Homo sapiens: one gene and its partner. The protein of the gene in region 1 interacts with the protein of each later gene in a pairwise test. Each region holds a gene or a part of one and is shown on either strand. Other genes may lie near its edges. The genes, in order: UTP25 and TRIM9.

Region 1 (6,181 bases):
AACCTTAAATAGTCTACCTTAATTCAGCCTAGAAGAGTACATTGATTTACTGATCTTTTTTCATATTCATAATACTAAATGTTTTAGTTTTGTTCAAATATATGCTTAAAATCACGTTATTTAAAAAACACATCAGCTCTGTCTCAAGAAGTAATTTTGTTGAAACTCCATGTTAAAATATCCATCTTCAACAGTAGTGTCTTCATAATAACTAGTCATTTTTTCAGTCATAAACAGATGCAAATAAAAAGGAAATTACACTTTTAAAAACATTTTTATTTTGAAACATTCTCAAACAGAAAAATTCCAAGTACAGAACCTGAACCATTTGAGAGTGAGTTGCCAACCCAGTGGGCCTATCACCTTTAAATACTTTAGTATATATTTCCTGTAAACAATTAAGGGTATTGTTTGTGATTAGGAATGCCCCACCAATAAGGATAATGTGAATATTTCAGAATCCAAAAAAATTCGAAACACGTCTGGTCCCAAGCATTTCAGATAAGAGATATTCAACTCATCCTAGTATGGACTCGTAGTTTCTTCTTTTATTCAATGGGTTACGGTTTGTTACATCATTATTTCTTTAGATGCGTAACTGGTCTCAAATATGGCCGCTGGGAGCACCTTCAGGTTAGCCCCTGTGTACTTTTGACATGTCCCCCATCTACTTGGGCACTGCTGTATTTTTTGACAATGAGACATTCCAGGTTTCTCTACTCCAGCCCTGCTTGCTTTTAGTAGGAAATTATTATAAAAGGTTAGATTGGAGTGCTTACTATTGTGGTGCCACTCATCCCAGGCTCAGTGGTCAGAACTTGGGAATTGTGTACATGTATGCACACACATATGTACACACGTTGTCTAAATTTGCTTCACATTAATATCTAAATTTACTTTCATATCCATATATTGAAAACCATGAATTCACACCAGTACCTCCAATTCTAGTCCAACAACACAGGATTGCTTCTCATTTTCTTTCCATATTGATAACTCCTTTCTCAGACAGTGGCTCCCATTATCCTCAATGTAATAACCCATGATTGGTACAGATTTTTTTTATCCTTGGGCACGCTTAAAATTACTTAGCAAAAACAAAAAGTAAAATCAGTTTTGAAGTAATATTTCTGCTAAATATTTAGACATTTTTACTTCTTTTTCTTCAGCATGGTAAGTAAAACCATTTATTCCATATTTAGATGGTTTTCTAAATTTCAGAAAATTTAGTTAGATAAAAGCCGACCGAACCCATGCTACAAAGAACTTTTTGTATCTATAGGCATGCCCTGTGGTTACTGGCGTAATTGTGCTGCTGTTTATCATAGATCCTGTATATTATGAGAATAAGAAATGAGTTTATTTACCTCATTCAGAAATGTGAGGCGAAGGGACTGTAATTACCTGGATCTTTTTTTTTTTTTTTGAGATGGAGTCTCGCTCTGTTGCCCAGGCTGGAGTACACTGGCATGATCTTGGCTTACTGCAATCTGTGCCTCCCGAGTTCAAGCGATTCTCGTGCCTCCGCCTCCCAAGTAGCTGGGACTACAGGCGCATGCCACCATGCACAGCTAATTTTTTATATTTTTAGTAGAGATGGGGTTTTGCCATGTTGGCCAGGCTGGTCTCAAACTCTTGACCTCAAGTGATCTGCCCACCTCAGCCTCCCAAAGTGCTGGGGTTACAGGCCTGAGCCGCCACGCCTGGCCAATTACCTACATCTTTTTCTACTGCCATATTCTTTTGCCTGTGAATTGTAGTTCATCTCGTGGTTTCCATTATTACTATTCACACGACTCCCAAATCTCCAGCTTCTCTGGCTCTCCACTCACATGTGAGTCTGGATTTCAAATCCATGATGTAGCCCCAGAAATAACCATTTTATTAAGCACCCCTAGTGATTTTCATGCTGGCATAGAGCCAAACCCAGCCAACTGCTTCTTGCCTGCAGAGAACACTGAGGATTTCAAGTGTGAACAAAGTAGTGTTGCTTTGTTCCTGGCTCAGCACCTGAAAAGAAGGTAAGCCTCTGCAGTTAGCCCTGGCTCCTTAGTGCATTGCAGAGTGGAGTCTCTGCAATGGTTTTATTAAAAGGATGCCTTGAAGATCTGGTCTCTCTCAACACACAATAAGCGAGAAGAGAGGCTACTGAAATACGGATGCGTGAGCTGGAATTACACACTACCTTGATGTTAACAAGGCTCATTTGCAGCAAGCAAGTGCCTATATAGGGTCTGAAATATAGACAAAGGATGGTCCCAATCCTGGAAACAGTGGAATTAAAAGGTATGGAAAGGAACTTACCCAGAAAGTAACACTTTTAAATGTTTTTTCTTTTCCCATAGTTAAAACAACCAGCTTAGCACTTTTCTTTTTGAGAGAGAAAAAGCTTTGAATCGTGGATGCTTCTCACAGCTGGCTGCACCACGTGCAGTGTTCAAAAAACAAGAACAAGCTAATCATAGAGAACCAGCAGCAGCTAAACAGCCCTCTGCTTGCTTCCAAAGGGCTTATAATTGAGCACAGATGGTCCTAGTGGAGATGGGGAATGTGTCCCTGCTGACTCCTCATACCCCAGAGGACCAAGGGGGGCTCATGAAGGCTCTCAGCCCTGATTGTGCCCTCGTGAGGGCAAGGAGCTATGCTGCTGAAGGAGGAAAGGGAAAGGCAGGTGGGGCCAGACCCTATTGGCCATCTGACCAGCCTTCCCAAGCCCACGTGAGCAGATCTAGGGTCTCAAGATTACAGAAGGCCTGGGGTGAGGGAGCAAGAGTTGGAAGTTCTTTATAGTTGTCTGAAGAGCCTCATTGTCCAACTGCAGGGGCCTGAGGTGCCCAAAGCTTCGTGGAAAAGTAATGTCAGTGGAATGCTCAGAAGTGGCTCTTTTCAGGGCACGGCTTCTGAGGAGCGTGGGGCCACCACAGCTAGCCCTCCCTCCGTCTAGCCATCCTCTCCTTCCAGTCCCTTTCCCATCTTTTCTCTCAAAGGAGCATGGTAGTGATCTTCATTACCAAATTTCTACTCCACACTTATTTTAAAAAGCTTTTCTGAAAGCCTGGCTACATAGAATTCTAAACAGATTTCAGTCAACTTTTAATTAGAGTCAATGAATGGGGAGTAAATACACAGATAATCCAAAATTGATGTAAGCATTGGAAGGGGAAAGAGGGAACGCTTCTTTCCCTCTGGGCTTGGTCATTTCCTCCCAAGCAAACCCCGCGACGTTCAGCCGTCTTCCTCCTATGCCACGTGCTCTCACCAGAACTGCAGCAAAACTGCATTTTATGTCCTGTGTCTAAAGCTAAACACATGTTCCTGTCTACTTTTGCTTTGTTCCTGTTTCCCTTCTGTGAGGACCTTCCCCTCCTCAGATGTGGGGAGTTGCCGCCTCCACTTGCATTACATGTATTTCAGAGTAGGTCCTAGGCTCCCCTTACACCTCTGGTCACGTTGCCATTATTCCTATGGTAGATAAAGGGGATGAGAAAGAACAGAGCTCCAGGCCTTTTTCAAACAAACTGGTTTTCTCAGTATAGCCCTATGCTCAAAAGGAGTGAGGACAGGTATGTGACTGCCATAAGGAGCTGTTTGCTTTGCACAGAGAAATCTAATCTTTCTCCTGCTGGGCAGCTCAGTACAGATGTCCCCTCACTGCTGGAAGAAACACCTGCCCTTGCTTGTTCTCCTGATGGCCCCTCACAGTCAGGTGTGGGATGGCACATTTCTAGGTGCTCCTCGCCGAGCTGTCATGGGCTTCAGTCTTGGGCCTCTGCAGCTGGCTGTGACCAGGTGGAAACTGTAGCCTTGGCTGACCCAGAGAAGGAAAGGAGGCAGTCTGCCGCTTGGCTGATTTAGGAGTTGTGCTGAATTCCTGCCCATCTGTTCTCCCAGCTGAGCCAAGGCCAAAGCTGTCTACCTTTTGCCAACCTAAGGAATGACACAGAGCATGGAGCACCATCACTGAAACATCTGCCCCAGTGCCCTGCCACCTTCGTCCTCACTGACCTCTGCAGCCTCTCTCATCTGCCAGTTTTGATTCCGCAAGGAGAGGTGGCCCTGGGCTCACAGCTGGTGTTTGTCCACAGATGTTCATGGGTTTCTTTGTGTTCTCTCATTTTTTCAAAGCTGGGTGTTGGGACCAACATCACCACTGACATTCTGTGGCTCTAAACAAGTCCTCACGACCACTTCTCAGTTTTCTCATCTTTATGAAGTATGGAGTAATCCCCACTAGCCTTATAGAGGGACTGTGTGAGAAGGGAAGAGACTGCTATTGTTTGCCCTATATCCACCTACTTCCCTAGTTCCAGAACGCTGGACTTTAATGAGATAACAAAGTACCTAGTAAAAACACTGCATCATTTTCCATCCCCCACCCCTTGCAGTAAAATGTGGCCCATGAGACAGAAGCACTAACTACTGAGCAGGACTTCTAGGGGAGTTCTTTAAAACTCAGAGGAGCACCACTTTTACCTTCTGCTCTTCCCTTTTTCCTGCCTGGAACGCAGAAGTGATGGCTGAAGCTCCTGAGGCTATAAGCTCTGTACGTAGGAGAGTGGTGAAGAAAGGAGCTTGGTTCTGCAAGGATGTTGTAGAGCTGCCATACCAGTCCTGCATGGTATTCCTGTGCACTACTGTTACGTGAACACACAAACACCTAATTTGTTTAAGCCATTAGGCCAGGCCTCTATTAGCCATTCCTGACTGATACAGAAGACAAAAATGGCATCACAGACTCCTGAACTCCAAAGACACTGCCTATTCTTTCGTCTGTTCTTGGCAAGCACCAACATTGAGACTGTACTTCAGGGTTGATGCTGGCCATTTGGTGGCGTGAGGAGTGGGCACTCACATGTCTCTGCTAGCAGTTCTGACGTGTCCATTCCACACTGGATCCATAGAACGAGGGAACACAAGTGTCTTCTCATAAGATTTATAGAAACAGTGATCGTTGCAGAAAAATAATTAGCAAGAGAACAGACTTCAGCTCTCTGAAGGCTGATGACCACCTGTTTCTCATCTCTTCTAGTGTATGTCAAAGCTAAATTAGGTCAAATAGGAAATAAGTCAGAATCCCCAATTCGATAGAAACTTACAGGTCTTGTGATCTAATCTGCCACTTGATCCGTGAATTACCTATAGGTCATCCCTAAGAGGTGGCCTCCAGCTTCTGCTTGAATTCCTTCAAGGATGGGGTGCTCATTGTGGCTTTTCTAATCATCTCTGATTGTTAGAAACACTGTGAAACTTTTATCCATCAGTCCTGTTTCTGAAGCTGTACGGTACAAATTTTTTTTTTCCCCACTTAAGGCTCAACTATTGGAATACATCTACCATGTCTCCTATGAAACTTGCTTCTCCAGGCCAATCATCCTTACTTCCTTAAACTTTTTTTTTTCCTGAAAAGTTATTCTTTTAATCTTATTAAAAAAGCAACCCATGCCCATTCCACAAATACAAGTGAAATAGTGAAAAACAAAAATCAAACTACATCTATTTGGTGATCATTATTAATGTCTTATGTTTCCTCCCAGATTGTTTTCTGCATGAATAATAACCAACAATGTGTGTGTATGTATATATATGCTTTTGCATTAAAAGGTGGTTTTGAAGGTAACATTTTTTGGAGTACTGATTAAGCGCCAGCAACTCTTCCAAGCTCTTTGCATGTATTACATCAGTTAATCCCTCACACCCGTTTAAGGTAAGCATCCTTATTTTTCCCGATTTCCACACAGGCAGCACAATCCTGAAAACCTACACTGTTTTTACTAGATAATTACTTCTCTAAAAACAAAACAATAAAAGCACTCAATAAATAGTAGTTATTATTACCCTTTTTAATGAAGCAATCCTAATTGTTGAACTCTTAAAAGGACTAAGGGATGGCTCACACCTGTAAATCCAGTGTGTCCGGAATTGGTAGGTTCTTGGTCTCACTAACTTCAAGAATAAAGCCGCGGACCCTCGCCGTGAGTGTCACAGGTCTTAAAGGCTGCGTGTCTAGAGTCTGTTCCTTCTGAAGTTCGGATGCGTTTGGACTTTCTTCCTTCTGGTGGGTTCCTGGTCTCACTGGCTTCAAGAGTGAAGCTGCAGACCTTCGCGGTGTTACAGCTCACAAAAGCAGCATGCACCCAAAGAAGTGAAGAACAAAGATTCCACACCAGGACAGAGTACGAGG
Region 2 (7,087 bases), on another chromosome or scaffold:
TCAAAACTTGAGTTCACAGCTAGTTTTTTATTCATATTTTGATTTCACTTTTAAACTGCTAATTATAGTCCATGTTGAATTGCCCTACAAAGTATCCTTGGAACTAAAAAATTAATCACTCTGTCAGGAAAAAGAATTTAGAGCCACAAGGTAATTAGGATGGGTAAACCACAACATTATTATTTTTTTTATGACAAGCCTATCCTTGATCTATTAAGACCAAAAGAAACCTTTAAATCTCTGTCAAGCCCCATGTCAATTTGAAATGTTAAATCATTTGTTTTATTGGCAATAGAAATTATGAGTAGACAGACACTGGTGCTGCCTGGGTTGAGATTTAGATATCTACCTGCCACAAAAGAATGTTAAAACCCTTGAAACATGACATAAGTAGGCTAGAAGACCATTTATTCTCTGATCTTTTGCACATTTTTTCCAAAACAGTAAGGACACATAATTTTTGTTCAGTCAATATGAGGATTACTAAACTGCCAAGAAAAAAAATAAGACAGAAGGATGACAGATTTTAACATTCACTTGTCATCTGTTAGATGAACAACAAACATTACTCCCCCACCTTATTTACTTAATAAGGAAGTTAATGTGTTAGCAGCCAGTTTTCTCATATAGTTTATGTTTTAGTTAATGGTACTTCTATCTCCACAAAAGCCCATGGGCCAGAATTTCTATGCCCTGCAAAAATAGGACAGCAAAGAACTATACTAACTAGGTTTCCAAAATTGGGCAGTTAGTTATCAACACAGGTTATTACTAGACCTGAAAAGTTGTCATTCATATTCTATCATATTAGTCATTTCTACTGATAAAGCAAGTCCTGCAGATAAGTATTTCCCACAGGCATAAATCATCATCTTACACACTCAAGATATAATAAAATGGCTGCAGTTTATTTTTAAAGTGGTATTAAAAACATCTGGTTGAAATTCACTAGTTTTCAACTGGCCAGATTAAAATGTTTTTCAGATATTTTTGGTCTTCAAAACTCCATGAAAAATAATAACACATGAATAATAATAATAATAATAATGGTCTTATAAGTCAAATATTTGGTAGCAGTTTTTATTTAGTGCCAGTACTTAACTATATTCCTTTATTCAACGTACTTGTTAAAAGAATTATAACACCAAAAAAGTGATTTTGTAGATACTTTAAAATGGGCAATAGAAACCACTACTATTACTTTGTGATTTTAAGCAGTTCACATTCCTAAATCCTGATATTATCCTTGAATTCCTGGGGTTTCAATAGTCACTGAATCAGGGCTGGGTGCACTGGATTATGCCTGTAATCCCAGCACTTTGGGAGGCCGAGGCGGTCAGATCTCTTGCGGCCAGGATTTAAGACCAGCCTGACCAGCATGTTGAGACTCCATTTCTACTGAAAAATCAAAAATTAGCTGGGCATGGTGGTGCATGCCTTGTAGTTCCAGCTACTTGGGTGGCTGAGGCAGGAGAATTGCTTGAACCTGGGAGGCAGAGGTTGCAGTGAGCCAGGATCTCACCACTGCACTGTAGCCTGGGTGACGATGCAAGACTGTCTCAAAATAAAAAAATGAAGTCACTGAATCAGTAACATATTTGTAACAATTATTCTGTGTTCATGCTACTGAGCAAAGATTTTCTTTTCCTTTCTATTCTAAACACTATTCATTCTTAATCTTGTCTCAAATGTTATTTTTCTCTTACCTTTGTTTTTATAAATGAAAATTTGCAATTTAAACAATATTTTAAAATAAACTGTCAGTTAATATGCCTTCAATTCTAAAATATCCTGGAGAAAAATATCTGCTTAGCTTTATGGTGGCATCTCATTAAATATTTATGTAGCAAAATGTGTTATATAATGCCACTAAAATGATATTCAGTTAACTATATGTCAGCAGTAAACACAATATAGTCTATATATTCCTGTGGTAAATGTAACAGGCAGCATATGTTCATGTTTTTACATTTCTTTTGATTTACTTCTAGTACAATTAGAACATTCTGTGTGCCATGTAAACATTTTTACAGATATTAAGGAAAATGTTACAGAGAAGACAGTTATTCCTCTTTGTACCCAGGCATAATGGAAAGAACTAGATAACAGGAGATCCAGGTTATAGAACCAATGCTGCCACTTACTTGCAGGAAACTTTTTGCAAGTATCATCACCTGTCTGTACTTCCCACCTACAAAGATATAAGGGAGTTAAAATTACAATTGTGAAAGGATTTTGATAAGGTAAATTAAATGTTTATAATTTACTAATTTCAGTTCAACACAACCATAAACATTCATGTCAAACAGAGTCAATGTCTCACCAGTCAACAATTACTGCGTAAAAATCTCATCCCCCAACTTGGGGTACTTTTCTGGATCCTTTTCAGAGCATAGGGTACAGTCCAAAGCTGCTCTGAAAGGTGGCCTAAAAGAGTGAGACTCTTCCTCATGGGTCCAGAGAGAATATTCAGTTGAATTAAGCTCAAGAAATAAGAATACTATACAAAGATTTATATATTAAACAAAAGTATTCTGTTTTTCTCTAAGTAAGCTGAAATAGCTGATAAGGCTCCGTTTTTTTCAGATTCTCCAATAAAGATATTGTTACCAGTTTGAAGTAGCAGAAATTGTTTCTCCTGTATATGCCATGAAAAGATGCTATTAATTGGAGTTTCAGGTCAAATCACAGTTTGCATAAAGTAAGAGACAATTATCACAGCCATCTGTTCTTGTGTAATGAAAATAATGTACAGGGAACATTTGTCCTTACCATCAGTATGATAAATTGCACTTTCCTCACCTAAACAAGTTGGTGGACTTTTCAAAGTGTATATACACATACAACTTAACTTTGGCCTACAGAAGGATAGAAGAACCTATAACAAGATAAATGTTTAAGAATCAAATAGTTATAAATAAATATCATTTGTTTATCAGTTTTATCAGGGATTATTCATTGAAAGGATCAGAAACCCACTTAGGTGATCTCAGAGGATTTCATGGGAAGTGAAATAAAATCAACTCACAAGGAGAATGGAACTATAAAGCTAGAAACTAAGTTCACTCTCAGCATCAGTCAGGTTGGACTATGCTCCAGTAACAAATCTTCGAATCTCAGTGAATTATAATGGCATCTAATTTCTTACTTATTCATGTCAGTGTCCACTGAGAGTCTTTTTTTTTTTTTCTTTGCTTTAGCTTGTTTGTGTTGGTTTCCTGCCACTTGCAACCAAGAAGTCCTGACTTACAAAAGCATATGAATTAACACATGTAAATACTTTAAGATTCTAATTTTTATTCATCCTAGATATTGTCTTTAGAATATTGTGTTTAGAAGGCTGCATTCTGATGCCATAAATACAAATAGAGGGGCGGTTTTTGATTCAATGAAGCAGAAATCATATCATATTCAATGTTATCTACCCATTCACCACTAGGTAGCTTTTATTAGCCTTTTGGTTATTTTCTTCAGTTATTTTTATTGTGAGGTTTTTCACAAAGAGGCCGAAGAGATTTTTTTTTTTTTTTACCAACTCGAAATTACTCCATGTATGTAGTGATGACACTTTTAAGAACATTAGGCCAGACAGGGAGGTCCTGAAATCGAACTTCTGCCAATAATTGATTTGTTTGTTTTCAAAGGCAAGAAAACCTCTGAAGATATGTATGAGCACTCCACAATTCTTTTTGTTTTATCTATACTCTAGGTCAGCATTTCTCAAACTCTGCTCCCACGAGTTTTCCATAGTTAAATAAGTTTGAGACTCTCCATTCTGAACAGGCTGCAGGTAGTTCACATTGTATATTGTATCAATATGCCTATGTATACACATCCTGCAACAAACAAAGCCACTTGATTCAATGTAGCATTTTCCAAATTTGTCTAACTTTGGAAACTCTGTTAGAGTGCCACACAAGTTTGGAGAACACTAGTTCAGGTAGTTATTAGTGAATAAGTTAGTAAGTAATTGTTATTCATTTCTTGTCTATGTAGATTAGAATACCTAAAACTATGCCTGCAGCAAACCTATCCTTAAATCTTAAATCTTGCATTAATTCTTAAAGCAAATGTTAAAAGTTAAATTTATTTTATTTTTTAAACATTAAAAGTCAAAGAGGTAAAAATAATTAACATAAGTTTTGTAGTATTTATATGTATGGACTGGAATACATGTTGTCCCCCTTTCTATTGTAAATAACTCAAAAAATGATTTTAGGCATGAGGAATATTAATGTAATATAATTTTAAAAACCACCACTTCATTCTACTTTAGACTACTTTTAGGTTTTGTATACATGATACCAAATGACTGGTCTAATTGAGTTTTTCATTAATCTGTGGTATACAAAAATAGATTGTTTTAAAGATACTTTTGATGAGCAGAAAAAGACAATATGAAAAGCTTAAAACTTTAATATTGCTCTGGGGACAACATAGCATAACAACTTATGAAGTAAATGCTTGTTTAATGCATTCCAGGTTTTGCTAATATTTTTATATTGACATTTTGGGTCAATTTTTAACCTTAGAACAAGAGTTATCTATAAAATGGCCACCACAGTGTACCTACACTATCAGAGACCATCTAGGTTTTGTTAAGCAGCATATCTAATTCAGCCCAAAGGACATCTCAAAGCCAAGATCATTCCCCTGGGGTGTTCTCACAACCCTAAACTGGGCCCCTATCCTAAACTGAGACCTAACTCCAAGTGAGATTACCCAAGAAACCTAAGCAAAATATATCTAACAGCAGGTTTTCTTTTTTCTAACTGCATCTGTGTCAGGGAAATCATCATGACATCATTTCACTTTTGTTTGGCCCTGGTTTTGCCTTCTTTTTAAACTATCCAGGCCTAAAGTGCAGCATGTTGGCCATGGGTCTAGTCACAATCCCATCTGCCTGCTTAGCTATCTTCTCCTTGACACCCTCTGACTTTCTCCATAGAGCCCCTCCCTTCCTGTCCACTACGCTTGCCCTCCCCCAGTTTCTTAGACCAAACCTTCAGATCACCAGACCAACTAACCTGGCCACACCCAGTTGAGATGAGTCAGCCTCCACAGCTGTGGACCAGACCAGCCTGCCAACCGGGAACCTGATGCTGCTACCCCACCTACCAGAGTTACACCTGCACCAGCAGTGCCCGCCACCTCCCCCCACCCCAGCTGTGTTTAATTGCAGACACTTTTTTATTAAATAACTGTAGAGAGGGAGTTTTCTTCATTTTGGCTGATTCATTTTAAGCTGCAAAAGCAAGAAAACTTTTTTTGAGTGTCTAGTCATGAATAAATAAACATCATTTACTTTTCCCCCCTCCTCAACACGCCTGTCTCAAGAAACTCATCCACTCCGTGGTTTCAATTCCTGCTTGTACCTGATTGTCTGAAACAGATCTGGTCATTTCAGTCCCCTTCCTCTTCACAGTTTGGTCCCAGACTCTCTTCCCAGCCCTGTCACCTGTTCAGCTCACCCTCCTCCATAGCGTCCATATCTGTATTCTAACCCTGAGCATCCTCCCACTGTATTATAATTGCTTCTGTGAGAAATCTTCCACTGAACCCTAATAACTCAATTCCATAGACTGTTTCTTATCTATCTTCTTTTACTCCGTTTCTGTACTTAGTAGAAGTTAGATAAAGGTTGGTTCAATGAAGAAAATAATCAGTAGAGGAAGACTAATAACTAGCAATATAACCCGGTATTTTAAATTTCTCAAATTAGCCTGACAGTAATCATTAAATTTGAAAGCCTGTATTTTATACTTTTTGCTAAAATGTACTGGGCACTTACTACATGCAGGCACTGCTCTAAAGATTTTTACAGCATTTTCTCATTTAATCTTCATAATCCACACATCTTCCTGTGAGAAAACTGGAACACAGGAAGATTATGAAGTCACACCCGTTGTAATTGGCAGGGTCAGAGTTTGAATCCTGGCTGTCTGACTCTACAACTCACATGTTTAACTGCTGTTCTGTTCTACTTTCTGATAAGCCCAGGAAGCATACCTATAAAGCACAGTTTTATGAACTTACAAACTTCAATGACATAACAAATAGCTGGACTCCTTTAGTTCTCGTATATGAAAATTACTGAGAAATTGAGTCATTTTTCTCCTAAGATTCCTTGTGACAAAATAAATTTAGAAAAGAAATTGTGGTGCATGAGGAAAGAGGTGACAAGTATGTTGAATATTCCACAGACCAGATCATCGGAGGTATAGGCCTAATTACCTTACCTATATAATTACCTTACCTGACAGAGATGGGGTTCATCCTGCTTCTCTGTCAGAACTAAGTAACAAATAGACAGTAAGATTTTACCAGCTCAACCATGGAGCATTGTCTCTCTTCTAACAAAATAATGCATCCCAAAATTTACAGACATAAAAACCATAAACTAATAAGTAGATTTTAATAATTACAGACCAAAAAAACCATAAACTAATAAGTAGATTTTAAAAATAAAAATCCATAGGCATTTTAAGTATCTTTATTTCTACACATCTAAACATTTATAAGTCCATTTTTGAAAACACAAAACATGTTTAAATCTGTAAGCAAGTATCTGTTTACTTTCAGTTTTTTCTTGTACCTTTTGCCTATGTGGTTAAAAGAAAATATGCGTATTCCAGTTCAGAATAGAAAGCTGATCCACCTTTCACCATATAAAAAGGAATATGTGAACCGAGGAGGATATCGTTTAAGAATGGATTTAAACACTGCCAAATAAAACTGTTTTTCATAGCCTTGCATAGAAGCAGAACTGCGTGTTTTATACTAACAGTTCTGATCAAAGAAGAAACTGTCCCTTTTAAAGAGCTGGCTTTGGAAATAGAATGCTAAACATTATTCTTTGGTGCGGGAATAGCCACCTTCTGTCAGGAGTACATGTAGATGGTTAATTCTCATCCACCGCTGATTTATTCATGTGACACTGACTTTCTAGCTGGGTAGCATCAGTCAGTTTTATTGAGGTTTTTGCTCATCTCCTCTTACTCTTACTTTGCTTGCAGCCTGCACTTTAAGAAGTAACTGTGTGGCACCAAATATTCATCACTTACTCCCATGCTCCAGGAGAGCCTGA

The links.
Region 2: the proteins of UTP25 (region 1) and TRIM9 interact in binary tests that used the Homo sapiens proteins (3 or more experiments, as listed by UniProt).

The regions. Positions count from the first base shown.
Region 1 is NC_000001.11:209,851,949-209,858,129, forward strand, and holds the end of UTP25 (U3 small nucleolar RNA-associated protein 25 homolog), read left to right. Parts: 3' UTR 1-5,617; downstream 5,618-6,181. UniProt on the Homo sapiens protein: Component of the ribosomal small subunit processome for the biogenesis of ribosomes, functions in pre-ribosomal RNA (pre-rRNA) processing. Essential for embryonic development in part through the regulation of p53 pathway.
Region 2 is NC_000014.9:51,085,091-51,092,177, reverse strand, and holds part of TRIM9 (E3 ubiquitin-protein ligase TRIM9), read left to right. Parts: intron 1-7,087. UniProt on the Homo sapiens protein: E3 ubiquitin-protein ligase which ubiquitinates itself in cooperation with an E2 enzyme UBE2D2/UBC4 and serves as a targeting signal for proteasomal degradation.